2 separate regions of the Homo sapiens genome follow, and region 1 is linked to region 2. Evidence: fine-mapped expression QTL. A gene starts in region 2. The other region holds a variant in brackets. All regions are shown on one strand. Distances are from middle to middle.

Region 1 (15,006 bases), 930 kb before region 2:
ACCCCAGCTACTCGGGAGGCTGAGGCAGGAGAATCGCTTGAGCCCAGGAGGTGGAGGTTGCAGTAAGCCAAGATCGTGCCATTGTGCTCCAGCCTGGGCGACAGAGCAAGACTCTGTCTCAAAAAAAAGTCAACAAACTAGGAATAGCAAAGAACTTCCTTAATCCTGTAAGTGACATCTATAAAAATACCACAGCTATTATTGTACCTGTCCCCTAAGATCAAGAGCATGGCAAGAATATCTACTCTGGCCACTTCTGTTCAACATTATGCTGAGTTCCAGCCAGAGCTAAAAAAAAAAAAAAAAAGAAAGAAAGAAAAAAAGCCATCCAGAGTGAAACAACTATTTATAAATGGTAGAATATTTTATATAGAAAATCCTTAAGAACCCACAAACATATACCCAGAAAACTCTTAGAACTAATAAACAAGTTCAGCAAGGTTACAAGAAATGAGATCAACATATAAAAATCAGCTTTATTTCTGTACACTAGCAATAACCTAAAAATTACATTGAGAATAAATTTCCATTTGTAATAATATCAAAAGGCAAAAAATACTTAGGAGTAAATTTAACCAAAAGAGTGTAAGACTTGAACACAGAAAACCACAAAATATTGTTGAAAGAAATTAAAGATCTAAATAATTAGATAGCCATTATTTGTGAATTGGAAGACAATATTAAGATGGCATTACTACCCAAAGTGATCTACAGATTTAGTGCAATCCCTATCAAAATCCCAATTGCTTTTTTAAAAATTCCCCCCCGTAGAAATTGACAAATTGACCCTAAAACTAATATAGAAAGGCAAGGGACCCAGAGTAGCCAAAATAATCTTGAAAAGGAAGTACACAGTTGTAAGATTTATACTTTCTGGTTTTAAAACTTAACCGCAAAGCCACAATAATCAAAACACTGTGATACTGACATAAGGATAGTCATAAAGATTGATTGAATAGTATTGAGAGTCTAAAAATAAACTCTTACATATATGGTCAGTTGACTTTTAACAAGATGGCTAGACAATTCAATGGGCAAAAGAATAGTCTTTCCAACAAATGGTGCTGGGAAAACTGGCTATCCTTGTGTGGAAGAATGAAAGTTAGACACCTACTTCATACCATACAGAAAAGTTAACTCAAAATGGACCACAAAGGTTGGGTATGGTGACCCACACCTGTAATCCCAACATTTTGGGAGGCCAAGGTGGGTGGGTCGCTGGAGCCCAGGAGTTTGAGACCAGCCTGGGCAACATGGTGAAACCCCATCTCTACAAAAATATACAAAAAAAAAAAAAAAAAATTAGTCGGGTATGGTGGTATGCACTTGTAGTTCCAGCTATCTGGGAGGCTGAGGTGGGATCACTTGAGCCCAGGAGGTCGAGGCTGCAGTGAACCATGATTGCATTACTACACTCCAGCCTGGGCAACAGAGTGAGACTCTGTCTCAAAAAAAGAAAAAAAACCAAAAAGGATCATGGACCTACATGTAAGATCTAAAGCCATGAAGTGGCAAAAGAAAAGAAATGGATAAATTGGGCTACATCAAATTTAAAACCTTTGTGCTTTGAAGGTTCTACCATTTAGAAAGTAAAAAGCCAACCCACAGAATGGAAGAAAAGAGGACAGACTCTAACAAGCGTTCACAAAGATGGAGAGAAATTGTAACCCTCATATATTGCTGGTAGAATTGTAGAAAGATGCAGCTGGTTTGGAAGATATTTTGGCAGTTCTCAAAATGGTTAAACATACAGTTACCTTATGACCAGCAGTTCTACTCTTAGGTATTTACCCAAGAGAATTAACAATATATATCCACAAAAGGTGTACACAAGTATTTATAGCAGCATTGTTCACAATAGCCAAAAAAAAAAACCAGAAACAACCCAAACATCCATCAACTGATGAATGGATAAATAAAATGTGTATATTCATATAAGGGAACATCACTCAGCCATTAAAAGGCATGAAGGACTGATACTTGGTACAGTGTGGGTGAACCTTGAAAACCTTATGAAAGAAGCCAGACATAAAAGGCCTTACATGATTCCCTTTAAATAAAATGCCCCAAATTGACAAAAACATAGAGACAGAAAGTAGATTCATGATTGCCAGGTGCTGGGGGTGATGTTTGGAGAGAAAAGAGTGGTTGCTATGAGTACAGGTTTATAGGGGAGTGATAAAAATATTATAAAGTTAGTAGTGGTGATAGTTGAACTGCCTCGTAAATAACTAAAAAAACACTGAATTGTATATTTTTACAGGGTGAATTTTATGATATGTAAATTATAAACTCAAAACTGTTATTTTTTTAAAAACTGAATTGAGCTTTAATACCTTTCCTTACAATTACAGTTGACCCTTGAACAATGTGGGTTTGAACTACACAGGTAGAGTTGTTATTACTGTTTTTTTTTTTTTTTTTGAGACGGAGTTTTGCTCTGTCGCCCAGGCTGGAGTGCAGTGGCGCCATCTTGGCTCACTGCAGTCTCCGCCTCCCTGGTTTAAGTGATTCTTCTGCCTCAGCCTCCTGAGTAGCTGGGACTACAGGTGCATGCTGCCACGCCCGGCTAATTTTTTTTGTATTTTTTAGTAGAGATGGGATTTCACCATCTTGGTCAGGCTGGTCTGGTCTTGAACTCCTGACTTCGTGATCTACCTGTCTTGGCCTCCCAAAGTGCTGGGATTACAGGCATGAGCCACTGCGCCCCACCAGTTGTTAATATTTTTTAATTAAAAAATATTTTTGAGATGGGTGTCTCACCATGTTGCCCGGGCTGGTGTTAAAACCCTGAGCTCCAATAATTCTCCCATCTCAGCCTTCCTGGTAGCTAGGACTACAGGCATGTGCCACCATGCCTGACTCACAGGTCCACTTAATATACATTTTTTTCAACTAAAGGCAGATTGAAAATATGAATTTTGATACTCACATATAATATAGGTTGGTGTGGAGCCTTCTTTGTATATGTCTGTTTCACAGGGCTGGCTGCAGGACTTGAGTATGCATGGATTTTGATAAAGGAAGTAGGGTCCTGGAACCAATCAGCCATTCCCCATGGAGACTGTATTTCTTTTCTTTCTTTCTGTCTTGTGTTTTTTTTTTTTTTTTTTTTTTTTTTGAGACGCAGTCTTGCTCTGTCGCCCAGGCTGGAGTGCAGTGGCGCTGTCTCAGCTCACTGCAAGCTCTGCTTCCTGGGTTCACACCATCCTCCTGCCTCAGCCTCCCGAGTAGCTGGGACTACAGGCACCCGCCACCGCACCCAGCTAATTTTTTGTATTTTCAGTAGAGATGGGGTTTCAACGTGTTAGCCAGGATGGTCTCGATCTCCTGACCTCATGATCTGCCCACCTCGGCCTCCCAAAGTGCTGGGATTACAGGCGTGAGCCACCACGCCCGGCCTTTTTTTTTTTCTTTTTCTTTTTTTAAGAGAGAGGGTCTTGCTGTGTTGCCCAGGAGGCTGGTCTCAAATTCCTGAGTTAGCTGGACTTCAGGCATGTGCCACTGTGCCACTCTTTGTATTTCTTTAGCAAAAGGAGACAAATACAAGTTTTCTGTTCCTTGGAATAGAGATAAGAAGAATTTATATACTCTTAAATCTGTGTTTTCTGAAGCGTGTTCTACTTTTTAGTAGTATTACTTGGCATATGACATTCTGTGGACAAATACGTTAAATAGGTATTTTTATTCAATTTTTATATGCTTTAGTGTGTTGCGAATGTCCAAGAGGGGGAGTTATTATATGAAGGTTTTGAAACTTGTTGAGGTGAAACTTTACATCAAGGGACAACTCTTGGGATCAGTGTTTTTGAACTAGGCTGGGGATGCAGCGTAAACAACATAAATGATCCCCTACTTAGTGTTAAGAGTTGGGAAGGTCCGGGTGCGGGGGGCTCATGCTTGTAATCCCAGCACTTTGGGAGGCCGAGGCTGGCGGATCACCAGGTCAGAAGATTGAGACCATCCTGGCTAACACGGTGAAACCCCGTCTCTACTAAAATAAGAAAAAAAATTAGCCGGGCATGGTGGCGGGTGCCTGTAGTCCCAGCTACTCAGGAGGCTGAGGCAGGAGAATGGCGTGAACCCAGGAGGCGGAGCTTGCAGTGAGCCAAGGTCGTGCCACTGCACTCCGCTCCAGACTGGGCGACAGAGCGAGACTCCGTCTCAAAAAAAAAAAAAAAACAAAAAAAACAAAAGAGTTAGGAAGTACAAAGTTGTTAACATGTAAATAAAACAAGTACCTAACTAACATAGCCTGGGAGGTGAGAGGAGCGACTTTAAACTGAGACCTGAGGAGATGAGAAGTTACCCAGATAAAGATGGGACTGATAAAAAAGTGCAGTGGATTCCAATTTAAGAGAGATCATATATGTTAATTTACTTTGGGTAACTGGGGAACATAACTACCTTGGCTATAGAGATATTTAGAGAAACGTACTTTGGACCAAATAACTTAGCTTAGGAAGGACAAATCCTTAGGAAACCCAAGTCTCAGATTATTTCTCTAATAGATATAAAAAGATGTTCTTTTTTTTTGAGACGGAGTCTTGCTCTGTTGCCCAGGCTGGAGTGCAGTGGCGCAAATCTCAGCTCACTGCAAACTCCACCTCCCGGATTCAAGTGGTTCTCCTGCCTCAGCCTCCTGAGTAGCTGGGATTACAGGCGTGTGCCACCACGCCTGGCTAATTTTTGTAATTTTAGTAGAGACGGGGTTTCACCATGTTGGTCAGGCCAGTCTCGAACTCCTGACCTCATGGTCCGTCGTCCTCAGCCACCCAAAGTGCTGGGATTACAGGCGTGAGCTACCACGCCGGCCAAAAAGATGTTCTTTTAGCTCCAATTTTTACAAAGTAACGTCCCCTCCTCCCCCTTTTTTTTGAGACCGGGTTTCACTGTTTCCCAGGCTGGAGTGCAGTGGTGTGAACACAGCCCACTGTAGCCCAGACCTCCCGGGCAAATAAGTGCTTTAAAAAAAAACAAAGGCCGGGGGTGGGGTGGGGGTGGGGAATTAACAGGTTCTCATGTACCTAGTCAAATATCAGAACAACTATGAGGCTTATATTTGTGAAATATATATTGGTTTCTGAATGGTTTCATTATTATTAAACTTCAACATCCTTTTAAAGTATTTGTTGTTTCTATTTAATGATAGACAGTGATCTCTAAATCTGTGATTCTCAGTCAAGGACAGTTTTACATTTGTCAATATGTGGAGATATTTTTGGTTATCACAGCTTGGGTACAAGAAGAATGCTAACCCAGAATGCTGACCCAAAATGTCTGTATGGCCGAAGTTGAGAAACCTTGGTCTAAATGCACCTCTCTGTATTAGTACCTTGGGAAAATTAACCATATTTTAAGCTAGTTACAGTCTGCATGTGTGATTCATAGAGATATGTGTCCTCCTGCATAAACATGTCTCTTTATGGATATGTCTGTGTGGTGCAACTACCAATCTTTCTTTGGGTGTTTTTGCCGTAAGTGGTTGTAAACACAATGCGTATCCGACTGAAAAAAGATTAATGTGCATGTTGGCATAAGAAAATGTATGAGAGAAGTTCTGTGTATTCTGAGTGCTGTTTTATTGGTCCCCTGGCTCAGCAGTGAAGTCTTTAACCTCATCATGCTTGCTGCTTATTGTTAGTAAGATCATCCAAGTAAGGATGTATAGGGCTGTGCACGGTGGCTCACACCTGTAATCCCAGCACTTTGGGAATCCAAGGTGGGAGGATTGCTTGAGTTTAGGAGTTCGAGACCAGCTTGAGCAACATAGCAAGACCTCATCTCTACTAAAAAAGTTTATTTTTTAAAGTCGGATATGGCGG[T/C]GAGTACCTGTAGTCCCAGCTATTTGGTAGGCTGAGGTGGGAGGATCACCTGAGCCCAGGAGATCAAGGCTGTAGTGAGCTGATTATAGCAGTGCATTCCAGCCTGGGTGACACAGCGAGACCCTGTCTCAAAAAAAAAATAAATTTTAAAAAGAGTTGTATAATACTATTTTGACCTTTGTCTTAGTTTTTGTGTTTTGTTATTCAAAGAAGTGTATCCCAAGTCTTTTCAGGTCTTAGCTTTGCTTTTTTTTTTTTCTTTTTAAAGACAGGGTCTCACTCTGTCAGGTTAGAGTGCAGTGGCACAATCACAGCTTACTGCAGCCTCTACCTCCTGAGCTCAAGCTATCCTCCCAGCCTAGCCTCCCAGGTACCTAGGACCACAAGCGTGCTATATCATGTCTGGCTAATTTTTATTTTTGTGGTGATGGGGTCTTACTGTGTTGCCCTGGCTGGCCTCAAATTCTTGGGCTCAAGCAATCTTCCTGCATTGGCTTCCCAGAATGTTGGGATTATACACATGAGCCACTGTGCCCAGCAGGCTTACTTTCAAATATATTTTTGAGCTAGAATTATATTTATGCTCTGAAATGGTACACATGTATAAAGAATTATACCTATTTCCTCACTAGCCCCAGAATACTGATGTGAGTTGGCGTGGAGGTGTAGTAGGTTGTAAATTGGTGGTCTGATTGCTAAAGCTTTTTTAAAAAACAGGCTGAAAATATCTTAACACTTATAAATTTATATATAAGGTAATTTTCCCTTTTTTATACTTCATTGATCATTTATTTATTGGCTTCGGCTTCGTTCCATCAGCCTGCTTGCACCTAACTTACAGGTGTTCTTAGTAGAACAGTGACTTCTAAAGCTACAGATAATTTATCTTCTCTTTGAGTGGAGGTTCATGTTAGTGGCTCTGGTAACTTGCAGTGTTTAGGATGTGGGTAGATTATTACAGGTCACTGTGATAATTTGTCCATTTAGCAGCTGGGAGCTTTTAAAACCATGCTTCTGTACTTCTTTGGGATCATGGACCCCTTTGAGAAATTAGAATCTTACCAGAATGATGTACTTATACAACTTGCAAAGTTTTATGTGTGCTCCTTGGAATTATTGATGTCCCCGAAGTCCATCCTTAGATTCTGAGATCAAAATGCCTCTTACTTTTAGCACATGGCAGGATTTTAGGAGCACCTGGTATATTGCTGCTTATTACTGGATATTTGCCAAGTTGCCTTTGTTTTAGCAGTAACATAAATTAAGAGGCACTAAATTCAGATAAGACCATGGAATCCCTAAATAGGGAGTTTCTTTTTTTTTTTTCTTGAGACGGAGTCTCGCTCTGTTGCCCAGGCTGGAGTGCAGTGGTGCTATCTTGGCTCACTGCAAGCTCTACCTCCCGGGTTCACACCATTCTCCTGCCTCAGCCTCCTGAGTAGCTGGGACTACAGGGCGTCCATCAACACACCCAGCTAATTTTTTGTATTTTTAGTAGACACGAGGTTTCACTGTGTTAGCCAGGATGGTCTCAATCTCCTGACCTCGTGATCCGCCCGCCTCGGCCTCCCAAAATGCTGGGATTATAGGCATGAGCCACCGCATCCAGCCAGCGAGTTTCTTTATAGTATATTATAATTTTTTTTTTCCCGAGACAAAGTCTTGCTCTGTCACCCAGGCTGGAGTGCAGTGGTATCATCTCAGCTCACTGCAACCTCCACCTCCTGGGTTCAAGTGATTGTCCTGCCTCAGCCTCCCAAGTAGCTGAGATTACAGACGTGCATCGCCACACCCGGCTAATTTTAGTAATTTTAGTAGAGACAGGGTTTTGCCATATTGGCCAGGCTGGTCTCGAACCCCTGACCTCATGTGATCCACCCACCTCAGCCTCCCAAAGTGCTGGCTTTACAGGCGTGAGCCACCACATGCGGTATAATTTTTCTTTGTTAAGCTTGTGATTCTACTAAGGGTATCGTCCTTGCAACAAAAGAGTTGTTTCCTCCCTAATCCCACCTTTGTCTACCCCCTTTTAAACTGTCATTGACCCTTGAACTGCAGGTTCACTTACACATGGATATTTTTGTTTAAAGAGATGGGGACTCGCAGTGTTGCCCAGGCTGGTCTCAAACTCCAGGGGTCAAGTGATTCTTCCTTCTCAGCCTCCCAAGAAGCTGGGATTACAGGTGTGTGCCACCACACCCAGCTCTATAAACAGGTTTTTAAAAACAAATCTTTTGGAAAAAATGTTAGAGACTTGCAACAACTTGAAAAACTCACAGACAAGCCACATAACCTAGAAATATTGGGCGGGGGGGAAATTAAGAAAAAGTTAAGTATATTATGAATGTCTAAAGTATATGTAGATACTAGTCTATTTTATTACTACCATAAAACATACACAGATCTATTATTAAAAGTTTAAATTTATTAACACTCAAACACACAGAGCCCATACAAGGCACCTTTTGCATCAAGAGAAATGTAACAGAGATGCAGTATTAAATCATAATTGCATAAAAATAACTAATACATACTGTACTACTGTGATAATTTTGTAGCCACCTCCTGTTGCTATTTTGGTGAGCTCGTATGTTTCCAAGTGTCTGCTTAAAACACCATGTGATGTGGATCATCTCCCCGTGAACAGTTTGTGTCTCCAGTAAATCCCATATTGCAATCAAAAGAGGTCTTTTGTGGTTCTTGCGTGTTTTCATCGTGTCTAGTGCAATACCATAAACCTTGAATAACACCATCAGACCTATACAAAGTGCCACTAGTGATGCCAGAAGCAATCCTGAGAAACAGAAAAGTCATGACATTACAAGAAAAAATTGAATTGCTTAATATGTACTGTAGAATGAGGTCTGCAGCTGTGGTTGCCCGTTATTTCAAGATAAATTAATCCAGCATAAGGACCATTTTAAATAAAAGAAAATTTGTGAAGCCATCACTGCAGCCACAGCAGGAGGTGTGAAACCTTGCACTTTTTACAGAATACCTTTTTATCTCATGTTGAAAATGCAGCTCTTATGTGGGTACAGGATTGCTATAAGAAAGGCATACTTGTAGGCTGGGCGCGGTGGCTCACGCCTGTAATCCCAGCACTTTGGGAGGCCAAGGCGGGCAGATCACGAGGTCAGGAGATCGAGACCATCCTGGCTAACACGTTGAAACCCCGTCTCTACTGAAAATACAAAAAATTAGCCAGGCGTGGTGGCGGGCGCCTGTAGTCCCAGCCACTCGGGAGGCTGAGGCAGGAGAATGGTGTGAACCCGGGAGGCAGAGCTTGCAGTGAGCTGAGATCACACCACTGCACTCCAGCCTGGGCGACAGAGCGACTCTGTCTCAAAAAAAAAAACAAAAAAAAAGGGCATACTTGTAGACTATGATATTCAAGAAAAAGTGAAGTTATTATATGACAACTTAAAGCAAAACGGAAGAGAAGCTAGAGGAGTTAATGCCAGCAAAGAATGGTTTGATAATTTTAGAAAGAGGCTTGGCCTAAAAATGGCAGGCTAACAGGAGAAGCAGCTTCTGCTGACTAAGACACAGCAGACAAGTTCCTGGGCACCGCTGAACAAGTCTTTAATGCAGTTAAAAGTGTCCTATTCTCGGGGTGGCAGGGAGGGGGGCAGGCCACAAAGGACATGAGTGTTAGGAAAAGAAGAAAGCACAGGGAATTAAGGCAGGAAGGGATAGGCTAACTACTGTTCTGTGCAAATGCAATTGGGTTTATGATCAGGACTGACTGCCCTTACGTATAAAGTTGCTAACCCCCAAGACCTGAAGGGAAAAGTCTTTTGAAGCTGCCAGTTTTTTGATCATTCAACAAGAAGACCTGAACACTGAGAATCCTTTTTCTGGATTGGTTCCATCAATACTTTGTCCCTGAAATCAGGAAATACCTTGCCATTATGGGACAGCCCTTTAAAGTTCTTTTGATGTTGGACAGTGCCCCTGGCCACCCAGAACCCCATGAGTTTAACACCGAAAACATTGAAGTGGTCTACTTGCCCCCGAACACAGTCTCTAATTCAGCATCTAGATCAGGGGATCATGAGGACCTTTAAGGTTAATAACACACGGTACTCTAACCTCAATAGAACATCATGAAAATCTGGAGGAATTACACCGCTGAAGATGCCATCGTTATAGAAAAAGCCATGAAAGCCATCAAGCACAAAACAGTAACTTCCTGCTGGAGAAAACTGTGTACCGATGTTGAGCATGATTTCACAGGATTTGTAGCAGAGCCAGTCAAGGAATTTATGAAAGAGACTGTGGATAAGACAAGAGCTAATAGACATCAACCAGAGGAATCAACAGAAGATGATTTAATGAAGATGCCGGTGCTTCCAAACCAGCGTTGGACGATAAGGAAGAAGGCAAAGAAGTAGTGCCAGAAAACAAATTGACTGTAGACAATCTGGCAGAAGGGTTCTGATTATTCAAGACTGCTTTAGACTTACTGTACAACATGGACCATTGTGTGATACAGGCACTGAAACTGAAGCAAATGATGAAAGAAGGATTGGTTTTGTATAGAAATATTTTTAAAGAAATGAAAAAGCAAAAAAGAAATTACAATGTTTTTCCGTAAAGTTAAACTGAGTGTGCCTGCCTCCCCTTCCACCTTCTCTACCTCTTCTGCCTCTGCCTTCCCTGAGACAGCAAGACCAACCCCCTCCTCTTTCTCCTCCTCAGCCTACTCAATTTGAAGACATTGAGGATGAAGACCTTTATGATGATCCACTTCCACTTAATGAATAGTAAATATATTTTTCTTCCTTATGATTTTCTTAATAACATTTTCTTTTCTCTAACTTTATGGTAAGAATACAGTATAGAATACATATATAAAATATGTTAATCGACTGTTACTGATAATACTTCTGGTTAGCATCAGGCTGTTACTAATTAAGTGTTTGGGGAGTAAAAGTTATACATGGTATACCCTTACCCCCATTGTTCAAGGGTCAACTGTATGTTGTTTTAAATCAGCATATTTTATAACTTTCCTAGTTTTTTTTTTTCTTATAGCTACAGGAAATGAAGTAACCGCAGCCATTTGGCAGTTTTGTTGCTGTTGTTTTTCTTATTGTTGTTGTTGCTTTTTTTTTTTTTTTTTTTTTTTTTTTTGAGACAGGTTCTTGCTTTGTTGCCCTGGCTGGAGTGCAGTGGCAGTGATAATAGTTCACTCCAGCCTTGAGCTCTTGGGCTCAAGTGCTCCTCCTGCCTCAGCTTCTTAAAGTGTTGGGATTACAGGCATGAGCCCCCGTGCTCAGCCTATTGTTGTTTTTGAATACTTTTTAAAATTGTGGTGAAATACATACAACATGAAATTTTCATTTTAACTATTATTTTGGTGTATAGTTCAGTGGTGTTAAGTACATTCTACTGTTGTGCAACCGTCACCACCATCCATTTCCAGAACTTTTTCATCTTTCTGAACTCAAGCTTTGCATCCATTAAACAATGATTTCTGTCTCCCCCTTTCCCCATCTCCTGGCAACTGTCACCATTCTATTTTCTATGAATTTGACTGTTATAGGTACCTCATATAAGTGGAATCATATAGTATTTGTTCAATTTGTAAGTAATTTACTTCATTTAACATAAAGTTTTCAAGGTTCATCTACATTGTAGCATGTGTCAGAACTTGTTTATTTTTTGAGGCTGAATAATATTCCATTGTTTTTATATGCCATGTTCTGTTTATTCATTCACCCATTGTTGGATATGTGGGTTGTTTTCACCCTTTTACTATTGTGAATAATGTTGCTGTGAACACTGGTGTACAAATATCTGAGTCCCTGCTTTAAATTCTTCTGCGTGTATACCCATGAGTGGAATTGCTGGATCATATGATAATTCTGTGTGTAACCTTTTGAGGAATCACCAGACTTTTCCACAGTGATTGCACCATTTTACATTCCTACCAACAGTACACAAAGGTGTCGGTTTCTCCACATCCTCGCCAATATGTGTTTTCTGTTTTTTTAATAGTAGCCATACTAATGGGTATGTAGTGGTATCTCTCATTGTGGTTTTTGATTTGCATTTCCTAATCTTAGTGATATTGAGCATCTATTCATGTGCATATTGTTTGTTTGTATATCTTCTTTGAAGAAATGTCTATTCAAATCCTTTGCTTGCTTTTTTTTTTTTTTTTTTTTAAATTTTTTCCAGACAGGTTCTTGCTCTGTTCCCCAGGCTGGAGTACAGAGGCATGATGATCATGGCTCACTGCAGCCTCAACTTCCCAGGCTCAAGTGATTCTCCTACCACAGCCTCCTAAGTAGCTGGGACTACAGGCACACACCACCGTGCCTGGCTAATTTTTAAATTTTTTGTAGAGATGAGGTCTCACAGTGTTACTCAGGCTAGTCTCGAACTCCTGGGCTCAGGCAATTTTCCTGACAGCCTCCCAAAGTGCTGTCATTTTTTGTTGTTGTTAGGAGTTTTAGGTGTTTTTTATATATTCTAGGTATTATTCCCTTTCAAATACATGATTTACAAATATTTCCTCCTTTTTGTGGGTAGTCTTTTCATTCTCTTGATAGCGTCCTTTGTTGCACAGTAGTTTTTAACTTTGATGAAGTACAGTTTAACTACTTTTTCTTTTATTGCCTGTGCTTTTGGTATCATGTCAAAGAAACCATTGCCAAATCCAGTGTCCTGAAGCTTTTCCCTATGTTTTCTTCTAAGAGTTTTATAGTTTGAGGTCTTTGATCTAGTTCAAGTTAATTTTTTTATATGGTTTAAAATAAGGATCCAGCTTCATTGTTTTGCATGTGGATATCTGGTTTTCCTAGTGCTATTTATTGAAAAGACTGTCCTTTCCCTATTGACTGATTTTGGCATCCTTGTCGAGGGTCATTTGACTAAGTATGTGAGGATTTATTTCTGGGCTCTCTATTCCATTCCATTAGTCTGTGTATCTGTCTTTATGCCAGTTCCACACTTTTTGATTTGCAGTAAGTTCTGAAATTTGACTCCCCCAGCTAATATTATTTTGGCTGGGCTCAGTGGCTCATGCCTGTAATCCTAGCTCTTTGGGAGGCCGATGGGGGTGGATCACTTGAGGCCAGGAGTTCGCGATCAGCCTGGCCAACATGGCAAAACCCCCCATCTCTACCAGAAAACTACAAAAATTAGCTGGCATGGTAGTACACACACCTGTAGTCCCAGCTACTCACAGCTACTCAAGAGGCTAAGGCAGGAGAATCGCTTGAACTCGGGAGGCGAAAGTTGCAGGAAGCCCAGATCACACCACTGCACTCCAGCCTGGGCAACAGAGCAAGGCTCTGTCTCAAAAAGAGAGATTCTTTTGATGTTAGATTCCATATGAATTTTTGGATAGATCTTTCTATTTCTGCAAAAATTGTCATTGGGATCTTAAGGGGACAACCACTTGTTTTTAACTGATTTTTCTGCATGGACCTCCTTGTGCCATAGCAGCACAGCTATTTGAGAGTTTAAGGCTCTATAAAATGTTTAATTAAGGCTTCTATAGGGTAGTATGCATTATAAAATCTGAAATGATCCAGCCTGGATTTAGATTATGCAAGTTTCTTTGCTTGTATCTTCTCTTTTGGTAAGAAAGAACATACCTAGAAAGTAGACAGCCTCCTTTAGGGAGGAAATAGTATTTGACATGGATATGTCTTGGGAATTGCGTTTCTTTTGCTAGGTAATCTAAGAATTTGTGTAGGCTTTTAGTATGGAGTAGTTTTAGGGTGACTGCTTTAAAACTTCAAAGCTATAGAAATGACCCTCTAAATTGAGAGAATAAAGTCACTTTTAAAGACTGTTAAGCCGTAATTCATGGTAGTATGTAAAAGTAAAATTTTATTTCATTTTAGCATGCCAATGAAGATGTGGAAAGAATGTTACTAGGAAACAAGTGTGATATGGACGACAAAAGAGTTGTACCTAAAGGAAAAGGAGAACAGGTAAAAATCTGAATTAAACTGATACTCTGCTCTGTCTTTGTAAAGGTAATGCTACTTTTGATTATTTTTATAGTAATAGTGATCGAACACACTAAGCTAATTACATAGTTTTTAAAATGCTTGTTGGAAATAATATTTTATCATTTGAGTGAATTTTTTTTCAGTGCATATTTAACATGTATGGGAGAATCAAATGTGCCCATAGTATTTTTAGCCTTATTTAAACTACAAAGAGAGAAAAATATAAGTCATTAATCCTCGGTTTTTAAACTTAGGACTTTAAGGAAATGTATCAATTAGTATGGTTCTAAAATGTGACAATCAGGAGCCTATGGTGAGCAGAAATTAGACCCTGAGGAGTCAGGTTGAGCTTCTCATAAGTTTGCCCCCAGTGTGAAGTATCTGACTTAGAATATCTGAAATAAACTTTTGGGGTAAGGAGATTACTTTTCTTTTGTTTGTTTTATGAAAGAGCTTGACTTGCTGAAATATTCTGTGTTATATATTCTAGTTGGGACCACTGCCTTCAGAATAAGATTAATATTTAAGCTGTTAAAGTCAGCAGTTGGCAACCCATGCTTGATAATTTTATGATGATATTTTGTTTCTGTTTTAGATTGCAAGGGAGCATGGTATTAGGTTTTTTGAGACTAGTGCAAAAGCAAATATAAACATCGAAAAGGCGTTCCTCACGTTAGCTGAAGATATCCTTCGAAAGGTAAGTTCCTGTTTTTATATCCTGCCAGGTACCTGAGTATCTCTGTTGAATATTTTGTCTATTCTGAAGTACTGGATTTACATACAGAATTTGAGTTTGGGTGGTATTGTTTCTGTAGGGCAGCAGTCCCCAGCCTTTTTGGCACCAAGGACTGGTTTCATGGAAGATAATTTTTCCATGGACCGTACTGGGGGGTAGTTTCACCCAGAAACTACCCCACCTCAGATCATCAGGCGTTAGATCCTCCTAAGGAGCACGCAACCTAGATCCCTTGCATGTGCAGTTCACAGTGGGGTTTGCACTCCTATGAGAATCTAATGCTATCACTGATCTGATGGGAGGCGGAGCTCAGGTAATAATGCTCACTCACTTGCTGCTCACCTCCTGCTGGGTGGCCCCGTTCTTAACAGGCCACGGACCGGTAAGAGTCCACAGCCCCGGGGTTGGGGACTTGTGCTATAAGGAACTGGGGAAACAGAAAGCCATCTAGAAATCTGAAGGATCTAGT
Region 2 (14,235 bases):
AGTAGCAGATGTAGGAAAGTATCGACCCAAAGTGAGGTCATGAATACAACAGCATCTCGTGTTCGCTACGTTTCCTCTGGAATTAGCCCACAAGCAGACCCCTTGCTCTCCTAGTGGCAATTAACCATGACCATCTTCCTGGAGAAGAGAAACTACCTGGCAAAGGGCCAAAGTCTTAGGACTGCTGGGCAGGAGAACTGGCCTGTGTTCAAGGTGAGTTGGAGAAAGGTGGCAGTTGTGAGAATGGGTTGACAATGGCACAGGGAGGACAAGTTCGGTGATAACTGTTGTAGAAGTCCAAGGCTGCATCCAGCGAACCAAGGATGCCACAAGTGCTGTGTTGGCTTCTAATGTGTGACTATATTTACCTTGCTGGGTTCATTTAACTTCTGACACTAAAATCCTGGGGAGCAACATTTTTCATCAACTTAGATTAATTGTGGTCTCTACTTACAGGAACACTGACAGCTTAATTGACTTTATTCGATAGATACAGTTTTTTGACCCAATGTTGAAATTGTCGGAAATTTTTCCTGTGTGGTGGACTAGTCCAATACGCACCTGCTCTGCATTAAAGCAAAACCAGATGTCCAGACATTTCATTTTTGCAGAGCTGTCAACAAACAGGAGTCCAAGCGGGGCCAGTAAATTGAACCAGCATAGGACAGTGATGCTGACAGGTGGGGCAGTCACACTGTAACTATTGCTGTTATTGGAAGAACCAAAAGGAGCTGACACCTCAGAGAGTCACACATCTGGACAGTAACTCCACACAGCTGAAGTTCAACCGATAACACACCATAAAGCTGAAGGGCAGTTATGAGTATGTTTATTTCTTACTAACTTTATTACCAGTTCTTTTGTGGACTTGAAAATAATATGCATGACTCACTTTGAAACATCCTTTCGTTTTCCTAAGTCTCCAGCAGATTTCTGGATTTCTCTGGTTATTTGTATCCAATCCACACTTCAGTTCTAGAGCAGGGCAGCTTGATGGGTAGCCTGACTTACTACGATGGATGTCACTAGGCAGATAGTGTTGCTGAGCTCATGCCTGCTACATTGTCAGTCCATTCACAAAATGCCACCACCATAAAGAGGGCGGGTTGTTTCCCACAGAGCCAGGCACACCTGCCCTGCCCTGTTACAGAATGACCCAGTGTCAATTACACAGGCATTTGTTTTTTGTTTTAAAGAAACGGGGTCTTGCCCTGTTGCCCAGGCTGGAGTGAAGTGGTTCGTGATCATAGCTCACCGCAGCCTCAAAATCCTGGGCTCAATGATCCTCACACCACAGCCTCCCGAGTATTTGGGCCTACAGATGCGTGCCATGCCCGCCTCCTTTTTTAAAAATTTTTTGTAGAGATGGCTCCTCACTATGTTGCCTAGGCTGGTCCCATTGATTATAGGTTCATTGATTCATATAATCAGTAAACTCCAGGTCTCTAGTGATCCTCCACCTTGGCTTCCCAAAGTGTTGGGATATTACAGGCATGAGCCGCCGTGCCCGGCCCTATACAGACATTTCAGTGGTTCAATGACCTCTGAGCATTTTGTTGTCTTACCTCACCTAAAGGAGTTTAAATTTAAGTGGACACTTAGAGTGATCTGTTTTTACTACATACCCTTCACAGTTGTTGAGGGGAGAAAGGGCCTTGCTTTTCCCTATGTGTATTCCCTTTATACTGGGCAGTTTTGGTGCTCTACTTGAGGTATAAGAAGGATTTTGGAGGGAGTGTCCACTGTTCAGGGTATGAGTGAATATTTAGTAAATATTGACTATTCTGCCTATTAATACAAATGTTGACTTTGAATGTGTTGTTGGATGTGCCTTGATATAACTTCTTTTTGTGTTAGCACATCACTTACTAATTTTTGAATAGACTTTTTTTTGTTTGTTTGAGACAGAGTTTTGCTCTTGTTCCCCAGGCTGGAGTACAATGGCGTGATCTCGGCTCACTGCAACCTCCGCTTCCCAGGTTCAAGTGATTCTCCTGCCTCAGCCTCCCAAGTAGCTGGGACCACAGGTGCCCGCCACCACGCCAAGCTAATCTTTTGTATTTTTAGTGGAGAGGGGGTTTCACCATGTTGGCTAGGCTGGTCTCAAACTCCTGACCTCAGGTGATCCACCCGCCTTGCCCTCCCAAAGTGCTGGGATTACAGGCATGAGCCACCATGCCTGGCCTGAATAGACTATTTTTTAGAGCAGTTTTAGGTTCACATCAAAATTGAGTGAGAGTTTCCATATATTTCCTCCCCAACCCGCCCCCACCACAGCCTCCCCCACCATCAACATCCCATACTGCTGTGGTACATTTGTTGTAATCAATGAACCTACATTGACACATCGTCCATAATGTAAGTCCATAGCTTACATTAGGGTTCGCTATCTGCGTTGTACACTCTGTAGGTTTTGATAACTGTCCAATAGCATGTATACACCATTATATAGAAGAGTTTCACTGCCATGAAAATCTCCTGTGCTCTACCTATTCCTCCCTCCCTTCTTCCCCCAGAGCCGAAGGAACCACTGATCTTTTACTCTCTCCAGTTTTGTCTTTTCCAGAATGCCATATAGTCAAAATCATACTATGTGGCCTTTTCAGATTGGCTTCTTTCATTTGGTAATTTTTTTTTTTTTTTTTTTTTTTGAGACAGGGTCTTACGCTGTCACCCAGGCTGGAGTGCAGTGGTGCAATCTCGACTCACTGCAACCTCTGCCTCCTGGTTTCAAGCGATTCTCCTGCCTCAACCTCCCAAGTAGCTGAGAGTACAGGTGCGTGCCACCACCCCTGGCTAATTTTTGTATTTTTGCTAGAGACAGGGTGTCACCATGCTGGCCAGGCTGGTCTCAAACTCCTGTACTCAAGTGATCCACCTGTCTCGGCCTCCCAAAGTGCTGGGATTACAGGCATGAGCCACCACACCCGGCCATTTGGTAATTTGTCTTTAAGATTCTTCCATGTCTTTTCATGGCGAGATAGCTCATTTCTTCTTAGCACTGTATAATATCCCATTGTCTGGATGTACGACAGTGTATCCATTCATCTACTGAAGGACATCTTGGTTGCTTCCAAGTTTCCCAATTATGAGTAAAGCTGCTATAAACCTCTGAGTTTAGGTTTTTGTGTGGGCATAAGTTTTCAAACACGTTTAGTTAAATACCAAGGAGCACAATTGATCATATGATAAGAGTATGTTTAGTTTTGTAAAAAACATCAAGCTGTCTTCCAAAGTGGCTGTACCATTTTGCATTCTCATCAGTAGTGAATTAGAGTTCCTATTACTATGCATCTTCATTTGGTTTTGTCAGTATTTTGGATTTTCACCATTCTCATAGGTGGATGAAGATATTTAATTTGCAATTCCCTAGTGAAACTGAGCATCTTTTCATATGCTTATTTGCCATTTGTATATCTTCTTTGGTGAGGTGTCCAGATCTTTTCTCCATTTTCTAATTGGGTTGTTCATTTTCTTATTGCTGAGGGTTTTTTGTTTTGTTTTGTTTGTTTTGGTTTTAAGAAACAGGGTCTTGCTCTGTCACGCAGGCTGGAGTGCAATGGTGCAATTATAGCTCACTGCAACCTCAATCCTCCCACCTCAGCTTCCCCAGTAGCTAGGACTACAGGCACACACCACCACGCCAGGCTAATTCAAAAAAATTTTTTTGTAGACATTGCTGTGTCACCCAGGCTGGTTTCAAACTCTCAGCCTCAAGCGATTTTCCTGCCTCTGCCTCCCAAAGTGCTGGGATTATAGGTGTGAACCACTGTGTCTGCCCTTATTGTGGAGTTTTAAGAGTTCTTTGTATATTTTGGATAACAGTCCTTTATTAGATATGTCTTTTGGAAATATTTTCTCCCACTCTGTGGCTTTTACAGTTGTTTTAAATAGCTATCTTATACATTATCTACAATAAAACATATTTACACCTTTCATAGTTTATATATTTCCAAATACCCTAGACTTCATCCATAGATATACTCTTCAGATATATGAGTGGGTGCTATTATTAACAGCTCACCTCACTTGGAAGGCCAGGAGATATCCAGTCTGTCCCAGACAGCTCCATGGAAATTACTACACATTTGTTTTTTTTTTTTTTTGGAAACGGAGTCTCACTCTGTCACCCAGGCTGGAGTACAGTGGCGCGATCTTGGCTCACTGCAACTTCCGCCTCCCGGGTTCAAGCAATTCTCCTGCCTCAGCCTCCCGAGTACCTGGGACTACAGGCATGTGCCACCACGCCCGGCTAATTGTTTGTATTTTTGGTAGAGACAGGATTTCACTGTGTTAGCCAAGATGGTCTCGATCTCCTGACCTCGTGATCTGCCCGCCTTGGCCTCCCGAAGTACTGGGATTACAGGCATGAGCCACCACGCCCAGCCTACTACACATATTTTAAGTTACGATGCCTCCCACCAAAGAGAAAGATTTAGTTTCCAGGTAGTAAATATTTTTCTTATTTTCTTTTTAATTTTACTTTTTATTGTTTTGAGACGGAGTCTCACTCAGTTGCCCAGGCTGGAGTACAGTGGCGCCATCTCAGCTCACTGCAACCTCCACCTCCTGGGTTCAGGCAATTCTGCCTCAGTCTCCCGAGTAGCTGGGATTACAGATGTAAGCCACCACTTCCTATTAGTAGAGACCAGGGTTTCTCCCTGTTGGCCAGGCTGATCTCAAACTCCTGGCCTCAAGTGATCCTCCCGCCTAGGCCTCCCACAGTGCTGGAATTACAGATGTGAGTTACCGCACCCGGCCTTATTTTATTATTATTATTTTTGAGACAGGGTCTCACTCTGTTACCAAGGCTGCAGTGCAGTGGCTTGATCACAGCTCATTGCAGCCTCAACCTCCCTGCACTCAGGTGATCCTCCCACCTCAACCTCCTGAGTAGCTGGAACTACAGGCATACGCCACTATGCCCAGCTAATTTTTGTATTTTTTTTAAGAAATGGGGTTTCACAATGTTGCCCAGGGTGGTCTTGAACTCTTGAGCTTAAGCCATCTTCCCACCTCAGCCACCCAAAGTGCTGGGATTACAGGCATGTACCACCACGCCCAGAAGTTACATTTTTAATTTTCTTTCAGACTGTTCATTATTGGTGTAAAGAAGCTCAATTTGTTTTTTTGCATGTTGATCTTGTTCTCTGCAACTTTGCTGAATTTTCTCTAATAGTTTTTTTTTCTTCTAATAGTTTTTTGGTAGATTCTTTGGTATTTTCTATATATAAGACAATATAGTCTGCAAATAGGGATAGTTTTATTTCTTCTTTTCTAGGTTGGATGCTTTTTATTTCTTTTTCTTGTTTAGTTGTTCTGGCCAGAAATTCTAGTACAATGTTGAGTAGCAACAGTGAAAGTAGGCATCTTTGTCTTGTTCCTGACCTTAGTGGTTGTTCCTGACCTTCACCGTTGAGTTTTATGTTAGCTGTGGGTTTTTCATAAATGTTCTTTATCATGCTGAGGAAGTTCGTTTCTATTTCTAGTTTTCTGAGTTTCTACTTTTCATGAAAGGGTGATGAATTCTGTCACCCTTTCCTGTATCAATTGAGATAATGTAGTTTTTTTCCTTCATTTTATTAATGTGGTATATTACATTGATTTATTTTTCTTTTTTTCTTTTTTTGAGATGGAGTCTTCCTCTGTCTCCCAAGCTGGAGTGCAGTGGCCGGCTCACTGCAGCCCCTGCCTCCTGGGTTCAAGTGATTCTCCTGCCTCAGCCTCCCGAGTAGCTGGGATTACAGGCGTGCACCACCATGCCCAGCTAATTTTTGTATTTTTAGTAGAGATGAGGTTTCACTGTGTTGGCCAGGCTGGTCTCAAACTCCTGGCCTCAGGTGATCCGCCCACCTGGGCCTCCCAAAGTGCTGGGATTACAGGCGTAAGCCACCAGGCCCGGCCTACATTTATTTATTTTTCTTATGTTGAACACCCTTACATTCCTTCAATAAGTCTAACTTGGTCATGGTTTTCTCCTTTTAATATGCTATTGGATTCAGTTTGCTCGTATTTTGTTGAGGATTTTTGCATCAATATTCATAAGGGATGTTGATCTGTAGTCTTCTTGTGGTCTTTTGGTCTGGCTGTGCCATCAGAATGATGCTGGCCTCATATAATCAATTAAAAAGTGTTCCCTTCTTTTCTATTCTTTCGAACAGTTTGAAAGGATTGGTGTTACCTTCATTTAGTGATCTGAGAGAAAAAAAAGGACTGGTGTTAATTCTTTAAATGTTTGGTAGCATTCACATGGAAGTCTTCTGATCCTGGACTTCTTTCTGTTGAGAGGTTTTTGTTTGTTTGTTCGTTTGTTGAGACGGAGTCTCGCTCTGTCGCCCACGGTGGAGTGCAGTGGCACGATCTCGGCTCACTGCAACCTCCGCCTCCTGGGTTCAAGGGATTCTCCTGCCTCAGCCTCCCAAGTAGCTAGGATTACAGGCATGCGCCACCACGTCCGGCTAATTTTTTATTTTTAGTAGAGAAGGGGTTTCCATGTTGTCCAGGCTGGTGTCGAACTCCTGAACTCAGGTGATTCACCCGCCTCGGCTTCCCGAAATGCTGGGATTACAGGCGTGAGCCACCGCGTGTGGCCTTTTCTTTGAGACAGAGTCTCTCTCTGTCTCCCAGGCTGTTGTGCAGTGGCGCACTCTAGGCTCACTGCAATCCGCCTCCCAAGTTCAAGCGATTCTCCTGCCTCAGGCTCCCGAGTTGCTGGGGATTACCGGAGTGGTAGGAGCTCACTACCACTCCCGGCTGCTTTTTTTTTTTTTTTTTTTTTTGAGACGGAGTTTCGCTCTTGTTGCCTAGGCTGGAGTGGCGCGATCTCGGTTTACTGCAACCTCCGCCTCTCGAGTTCAAGCGATTCTCCCACCTCAGCCTCCGGAGTAGCTGGGATTACAGGCGCGCGCCACCATCCTCTGCTAATTATTTTTGTATGTTAGTAGAGACAGGTTTCACCATGTTGGCCAGGCTGGTCTGCAACTCTTGAACTCCGGGGATCCGCCCACCTCGGCCTTCCAAAGTGCTGGGATTACAGGTGTGAGCCACCACGCCTGGCCATGAATGTGATTTTTTGATATTGAATAATAAAAGCTATGCAGATCTTCTATATTCTTCTATCTAAATGTTGACACAACTTTATATCTAGAAACTTCGGATTTAAAGCTCAGCCCGAGAGAACCCATCAAATGTTGGAGCTGCAAGGGGCTAGAAAGCATCACCAGACCTGGATTCGCGGGCGATGTTGGCTCAAGGTAGCACAGGACGTTGGCCCAGAGCTGGAAATTGAGGCCAGGTCTTCCGGCACACCCACCCCACAGGACGACCAAGCAGGGCTTCACAGAGGAGTTGGGGGTTAGGTTTATTTCTGTTGTTAAAAACCCGGTGAACAAAAGGTTGTGGAAAAAACACATGCAAAAGACAGGCGAAGGTGTGAGCTGGATAGGGACAAAGATGGGGGAACCCGTGGGGTCACTCCTTGACCCCACCCGGGACACCTAGACATCCACAGTGTCGGGGGAGGGGCCCCAGACCAGGCAGAAGACCCTTCCCCGGCCCTGGGGAACCCAAGATTTCCGAGAGTAAGCGGACCTGTGCAAAGACCCACAAGGGAGGCCAGTGGCCTGTGCTGGGCACTGTACAGCCGCCCCGACCCCGACCTCACGTGGGCCTCGGAGGCTGCAGGGACCTACCCGGCCGCGCGCCGCCCACCATCCCAGGTCTACCGCAGGGGAATCCCCCAGGCTTGCGAGCGCTTCCGAGGGCAGGAAAGCCTGTACTGCAGCCCCGCCGCCCTCTCCTGGCGCGTAGCCCTCTCCCCGAGCCCTCGGGCCACGCCGCCAGGCCCGCGATCCCAGGGCGGCCCGGGGGGTTCGGCACAGCCCGATAATGCGCCGCGCCGAAGCCTGCAGCACCCCGCGGTCGCCGTCTCTCTTGCACTGGTCAGGACGAATAGAGCCTGACAAAACCTGAGTTAATTGGCCGAGCGAATGTCGTTCGCGTCAGGAGAGCACGTCCGGAGAAGCCAAGGGAAATGTGGAGCAGGAGCAGCCAAAGTGGCCCATCGGCTCTCGAGCAGGGTTTGCGCGTCGCGGTCGCAAAGCCCCTGTGAGTGCAGGTACCGCGGCACAAGCGCTGCCCCGGAGCTCCAGGAGGCGGCGGCGGGCTCGGCGTTCGCGGTCCAGGAGAAACCACCGCGGGGTGTTGGGAACATTTTGTTAAAAAGCCGGGAAGCTCAGGGCCGGTGTGGCCTCCGTTCTGGCCTGAGAACCCGGACTTTGGGCAGCTTCTTTTCCTTGCCTTTGGGTCTCCGGCTTTCTCAGCTCTGTGAGGTCCCATGGGTCTCCTGCCCTGGCAGGTTCCTTCAGCTGGAGAAAGCGGGGGTCATGGCTGGATGAGGTTGCGGTAAGCATTAGAGGGCTATCAGCAGCATCTTATCGCAGCGGAGCCTTCGATAGCTCAGTTGGTAGAGCGGAGGACTGTAGTGGATAGGGCGTGGCAATCCTTAGGTCGCTGGTTCGATTCCGGCTCGAAGGACTTCGTCTGTAATTTTTAACCTCAATTTAATTCAATTATCCCATAAGGGGAAAGGCTTGGAGGCCTCCTGTGACTTAGCATTCGTACTGCCGTCAGTCCATAGGGAACACCGTAGTATGTAGTATACGGTAACGCTCTTTCTGCGTTCAATGTACATGTGGTAACGTGTTTTAGAATGTTTTCTGCTTAAGCACACGATTATATGCTTGATTTTTAGAATCTTGCACATGGATGCCACTGTATTGTACTCTGCTAAATAAATGTCCTGAACTGTGGTTGATCCACTGGTCAGTGAACAGTGCAGTGAACCTGTAAGGCAAAGGGAAAGAACTAAGCAGCAGGCGGGGGATTAGCTCAAATGGTAGAGCGCTCGCTTAGCATGCGAGAGGTAGCGGGATCGATGCCCGCATCCTCCACTCAGCTTTTGCGTCCGTCACACTACAGAACACAAAACGGGAGGGATTCCCGGCGCAGTGGGCTACGTGTTTCATTTTAGAGACACAAGACTGTTAAGCGATAAGGAGTTTCACACGATGTCTTTTTATTTCGCAGTTGAGTCCCAGTTTCTGCCGCTTTATCTTTCCCGCCTCCCGGCAGGCAGGCCGTTAACCGTCTTCCGGAAGACGCTGCTAGAACCCTCCGGCCGCTCCTGCCCGCCATCGTCCCCGAACGACACTCGCTCAGGTACCCACTAACGTGCGAGGAACCCTGAGAGCTGACCAATGGTAGCGAGCTTTACTGGGCGGGTCGCCAGCTGCAGCCACGGCCAATAGGCGAGAGACTTCTTGTTTCCTGGCAGAGCGGGGTCCCGGCACCGCGGCGCTCGGGTGTTTTTGGGGGCCCGGGTGGAGGGCCCGGGTGCCGGGGCCCAAGGTGCGGCCTCGCTAGCGGGAGAGGGAGCGGGATCACCGGCCCGGAGAGAGGTGAGGGGCTCTGCGCGGACTACGGGCCCCGCCAGCCCCGGCCCCGCCAGCCCCGGCCCCGCCCCCTTCTCTCAGCCCCTTGAGCCCGAGCCCCTCGAAGGCCACCCCGCACCCCGCTCCCGACCTGGCTTACGCGGTCCCGACCCCGCCCAGCTCCGTGGCCTCACCTCTGACTCCTAGGCCCTCCCTGCCTAATCCCCTGCCGCGGGAGCCCGTCTCGACCCCTTCCATGCCTCCCAGTCCCACCCTGCCCAGGGCAAGCCCGCTCGGTGTGACGGTTCCCCGCGAGTCGAGGGTGGAGAAGCCAGCCTCCTTCCCCCGAGTGGGACTCTAGCAGCCCACCTCTTTTAGGGGTGCTGAGAACACCCATTACTCATCCACAGCTACTAGGGTAGCTTTCTCAGGGTGCAGTGCTTACGGGGCGGAGGGGGATGGAAACAGACCCATGCCCTGGCTGGAAGGGAGCTCCAGTCGCTAGGTGAGCCCAGTAGCCTTTGGCTTGGCAGAGGCACCACTGTTATAGTTTTTCTCCATACTAGGCATAAGGTAGGAACAAAAAAGGAAGAACCAGCCCTTCCAGGGCTCAGGGGAGCAACACCAGAATGTCCGCTCAGTACTTGTGAGGACAGAGGCTGGAGAGAGGACTACCCATTTACACTCAGAACCTCGATTCCTCTCTCTGCTCTGTGCTGGAGAGTGCAGAGCCAGAGATCCAGAACGGCCCATCTCTAAAGGTGGCCATGTATGGTGGTGAGTGTATCTTGGCTAGGTTTGGAAAATCTGACCTCTCTGATTATATTCTCTAATCTTTGGGCTGCAAAGCAGCTGAGAGTTTAGTGTTTTTCAACATAGTTAAGCCACTGAGTTTTATTTGGGAACAGCCAAGCTAAAGTAAAATGGGGTCCCTTTAGGTCATTTACAACCCTTAGTGTTGGGGTACAGAATGCTGCTTTCTCTTGGCCTTTGCTGGAAGACCACTTCTATGTTTTCTAAGAGGGAGACAGCCTTTTGTTTCATAGGGCACTCCCTAAGAATAGCTCTTATTTATCAAGAGATACCCAGAAAACTCTTCGATTTGTCTTCCCTTTCCTCCTTAACCTAACCCTTGTTTTCCCCCAGCTCTCAGGGCCAGAGCGGGGCAGGAGGATGCTTTCCCAGCCCCACCATGGAGCTGCGCTGTGGGGGATTGCTGTTCAGTTCTCGCTTTGATTCAGGGAATCTAGCCCACGTGGAGAAGGTGGAATCTTTGTCCAGTGATGGGGAAGGGGTAGGAGGTGGGGCGTCAGCCCTGACCAGTGGCATTGCCTCTTCCCCTGACTATGAATTCAACGTGTGGACCCGACCAGACTGTGCTGAAACGGAATTTGAGAATGGGAACAGGTATATGGAACGAAATGGAGGGTGGAAAAAGGCTCCAAACCCATGCTTCAGTTAGCCCTCTGACTTATCTGTTCATACCCAGCATACTCCCTGTCCATTTCTGACCCATCGTCCCTCCTTTCTCCTTGCCAAATAGCCCTTTCCCAGTTTGGCTGGCTCCGGCTCTCCCACAGACCATATCTCCAACCCTTCCACACGTAATGACCTCTCTCTTACTCTGGTCCTCAGGTCATGGTTCTACTTCAGCGTCCGGGGAGGAATGCCAGGAAAACTCATCAAGATCAACATTATGAACATGAACAAGCAGAGCAAGCTGTATTCCCAGGGCATGGCCCCCTTTGTGCGCACACTGCCCACCCGGCCACGCTGGGAACGCATTCGAGACCGGCCCACCTTTGAGGTAAGTTCTCCATGAGGAGGAAAGAAAGACTTGGGTGCTAAAAGTAGAGAGGAAAGTAAAGCGTTTTTTTTTCCTTGATACAAGTATGAAGCAGGTGGGACAACAGGTTTAAGTATCAGCTTTTTCTCCAGTGTTAGCTAGAGTCCAAGATGAGCCCCTGCCTCAGGAAGCCTAGAAGGAGCCACTTTTCATATAGAAAGTGTCACAGGGAGGGAAGTTGGTAAAGGTGATAAGGGTGTGAGGTCAGTTCCTGGTGGTCCCAGTAGGAGCTCAGTTCTGACAATGGCATGTTGCCCCTCCCTCTTCCTCCTCTGCTCTTCAGATGACAGAGACGCAGTTTGTGTTATCCTTTGTTCATCGTTTCGTGGAGGGCCGTGGGGCCACCACCTTCTTCGCCTTCTGCTACCCCTTCTCCTACAGTGACTGCCAGGAACTGCTAAACCAGCTAGACCAGCGCTTTCCGGAGAACCACCCTACCCATAGCAGGTGCCAGCCCCATTCTTACTCCTGCCACACAGTCCTGGATCAGACAGCACCTCCACTACTTCTGGAATTTGCTCTTAGAGCTCTGAACCATACTTTCATCCGTCTTTTTTCTGTACAGAATGTACAGACAGGACTTTGGGTACCTTTGAAAACTATGTTTCTGTATGACCCTGATCTCAGCATATCGACACCTGCCCTCCACTCTTTCACCTGCCCAGTTCAGACCTCTTACTAGCCCAGCTCCCATTAATTATCCAGAGTTTAGCCAGCATTATGTGACTCAGTATACCTTTTTTATCTGCCCCCACGGAGAACAACTCCGACTACATTAAGTAATCTATTCTAGGAAGCCACAAACTGGGGAACAACAAGTTCACCCTGTCCTGTACTCTTCATTCTGGCAATGTAAACCCACTCAAATCCTTAGCCTCATTTAACATTGTGAGGGACTATAAGGCCCCAAAGGTTAGGGTGAAGGACCAGATTTTACAGATCCTGGGCTGGTGACAAGGCCTACCTCTTACTAGGACTTTAGGGACTTCTCCTGGCTTAATTTTTTTTTCCCTGTAGCCCCCTGGATACCATCTATTACCATCGGGAGCTCCTTTGCTATTCTCTGGATGGACTTCGTGTAGATCTGCTGACGATCACTTCCTGCCATGGGCTTCGAGAAGATCGAGAGCCCCGTCTAGAGCAGCTATTTCCTGATACCAGCACCCCTCGACCATTCCGTTTCGCAGGCAAGAGGGTGAGTGGAAATAGCATAAAGGTAGTTCTTTGGCTTTTCTCTAGCACCAGGTACTGTTTATAGCTAAAGACTATGTTATCTCTAGGCATCTTGGACATGGCCTCCGCCCGCAGCGTGCGGCAAGGGTGATGGCCCCTGCTCCACTTGCAGATTCAGCCAGCTGGAAATCCAGCGGCTATTCCTGCCTCATCCATGACACCCCCCATATACTGTCAAAGTAGAACTACAGGGTAACTGACTTAATGTCTGCTCTCCTCTCTACCTCAGATATTCTTCTTAAGCAGTAGAGTACACCCAGGGGAGACTCCATCTAGCTTTGTCTTCAATGGCTTTCTGGACTTCATCCTCCGACCTGATGATCCCCGGGCCCAAACCCTCCGTCGCCTCTTCGTCTTTAAGCTGATTCCCATGTTGAACCCCGATGGTGTGGTCCGGGGACACTACCGGTAAGTGGCTTCCCCAGCCTGTCTGGACTGTTCCCATTTCCCCTCATGCCCTGCATCTCAGTGAAATTCTGTCAGCCTTCTGGCTTCTGTGTTCCCAGTCCTCTTGCACCCTAATAAAGGCAAGCCCATCTCATCTTCCTGAGAAAGCATGAGATCATATCTAGTGGCACTCCCAGAAAGGAACCAAACTAGGATGACTGCAGGCCCATCTGGGTGGAGGCAGCTACCCTGAGGAAGCTCCTTAGGGTTCTATGGTAAGGGTGACAGCAGATCAAAGAGAGGCCCTGTCTTCAATTCTTTCTTTCCTAACATAGCTTCAGCCTCTCATTTGATAAGTCAGTCTCCTACGGTCTCCTTTTCATCTACACTAGTGTCTCCTTCACTGGCCCAGTCCTCTAGAACCTGCTTCAGTCCTTGTTTTCCTACAGCACAGACTCACGTGGAGTGAATCTGAACCGTCAGTACCTGAAGCCTGATGCCGTCCTGCACCCGGCCATCTATGGGGCCAAAGCTGTGCTTCTCTACCACCATGTGCACTCTCGTCTGAACTCCCAGAGTTCCTCTGAGCACCAGCCCAGTTCCTGTCTCCCTCCTGATGCTCCTGTTTCTGACCTGGAGAAAGCCAACAATCTCCAAAATGAAGCTCAGTGTGGGCACTCAGCTGACAGGCATAACGCTGAAGCCTGGAAACAAACAGAGCCAGCAGAACAGAAGCTCAACAGTGTGTGGATTATGCCACAACAGTCTGCGGGGCTTGAAGAGTCAGCCCCTGATACCATCCCCCCCAAAGAGAGTGGCGTTGCTTACTATGTGGACCTGCATGGACATGCTTCCAAAAGGGGCTGCTTCATGTACGGAAACAGCTTTAGTGATGAGAGCACCCAGGTGGGAATCCTAAGAATGTCATGTGAGTGTGAGAAGTGTTACAGGTTAGGAGATGGGGTTAGGCCATGAACAGAAGGAAGATAGCCTTAGGTAGCTTTCTGGAAGGAAGGCCTGTGTAGACTACCTCTGAAAAAGCTTTGAAGGGCCAAGAAGAGATGGCACAGGGGGATAATGTCTCAATTGTTACATCATGACCTTTTATTAAGGAAAGCTAACTGCATTATAGTCTGCTAGAGTCTGGGAATCCAGAGAAGGAAAATTTTGCATTGTTGGAGGGAGGAAGCTAAAAGCTTAAAAAAAAAAGAATTGCTTCCCAACACCTAGAAGTAATGTCAAACTGAGAATTCAGGCAGCACTGATTACTGTTAATGGTTGTGATGGTATCTGCTGTGTATTAAGTCACATGGTCACATACTTGCTATCTCTTCCTTG

Direction of the effects. Positions count from the first base shown, and alleles are read on the strand shown. Sizes are in standard deviations (SD) of each study's normalised expression.
As copies of T replace C in region 1, the expression in testis of the gene that starts at base 9,333 in region 2 goes down (small effect, 0.32 SD a copy in GTEx).

What was found.
Region 1: its variant is fine-mapped to the expression of AGBL5 in testis (GTEx, PIP above 0.99).

The regions. Positions count from the first base shown.
Region 1 is chr2:26,113,454-26,128,459 of GRCh38, forward strand. RAB10 (RAB10, member RAS oncogene family) reads left to right here. Exons shown (of 6, transcript NM_016131.5): 4 at 13,691-13,780; 5 at 14,397-14,498. Among named protein-coding and RNA genes, the nearest start is that of GAREM2, 52 kb to the right of the region's middle. The variant T/C (reference allele first, on the strand shown) is at 5,826.
Region 2 is chr2:27,042,336-27,056,570 of GRCh38, forward strand. AGBL5 (AGBL carboxypeptidase 5) reads left to right here and starts at 9,333. Exons shown (of 15, transcript NM_021831.6): 1 at 9,333-9,458; 2 at 10,578-10,838; 3 at 11,067-11,238; 4 at 11,561-11,724; 5 at 12,295-12,472; 6 at 12,740-12,918; 7 at 13,347-13,803. The coding sequence starts at 10,624. AGBL5-AS1 (AGBL5 antisense RNA 1) reads right to left here and starts at 7,929. Exons shown (of 2, transcript NR_046730.1): 1 at 7,845-7,929; 2 at 7,348-7,669. TRY-GTA2-1 (tRNA-Tyr (anticodon GTA) 2-1) reads left to right here and starts at 8,447; the gene lies at 8,447-8,535. It overlaps TRA-AGC8-1 (tRNA-Ala (anticodon AGC) 8-1), which reads left to right and starts at 8,879; the gene lies at 8,879-8,951. RefSeq lists silencers at 7,714-7,923, 8,626-8,920, 9,324-9,763, 9,784-9,833 and enhancers at 8,084-8,373, 8,544-8,773, 9,088-9,587.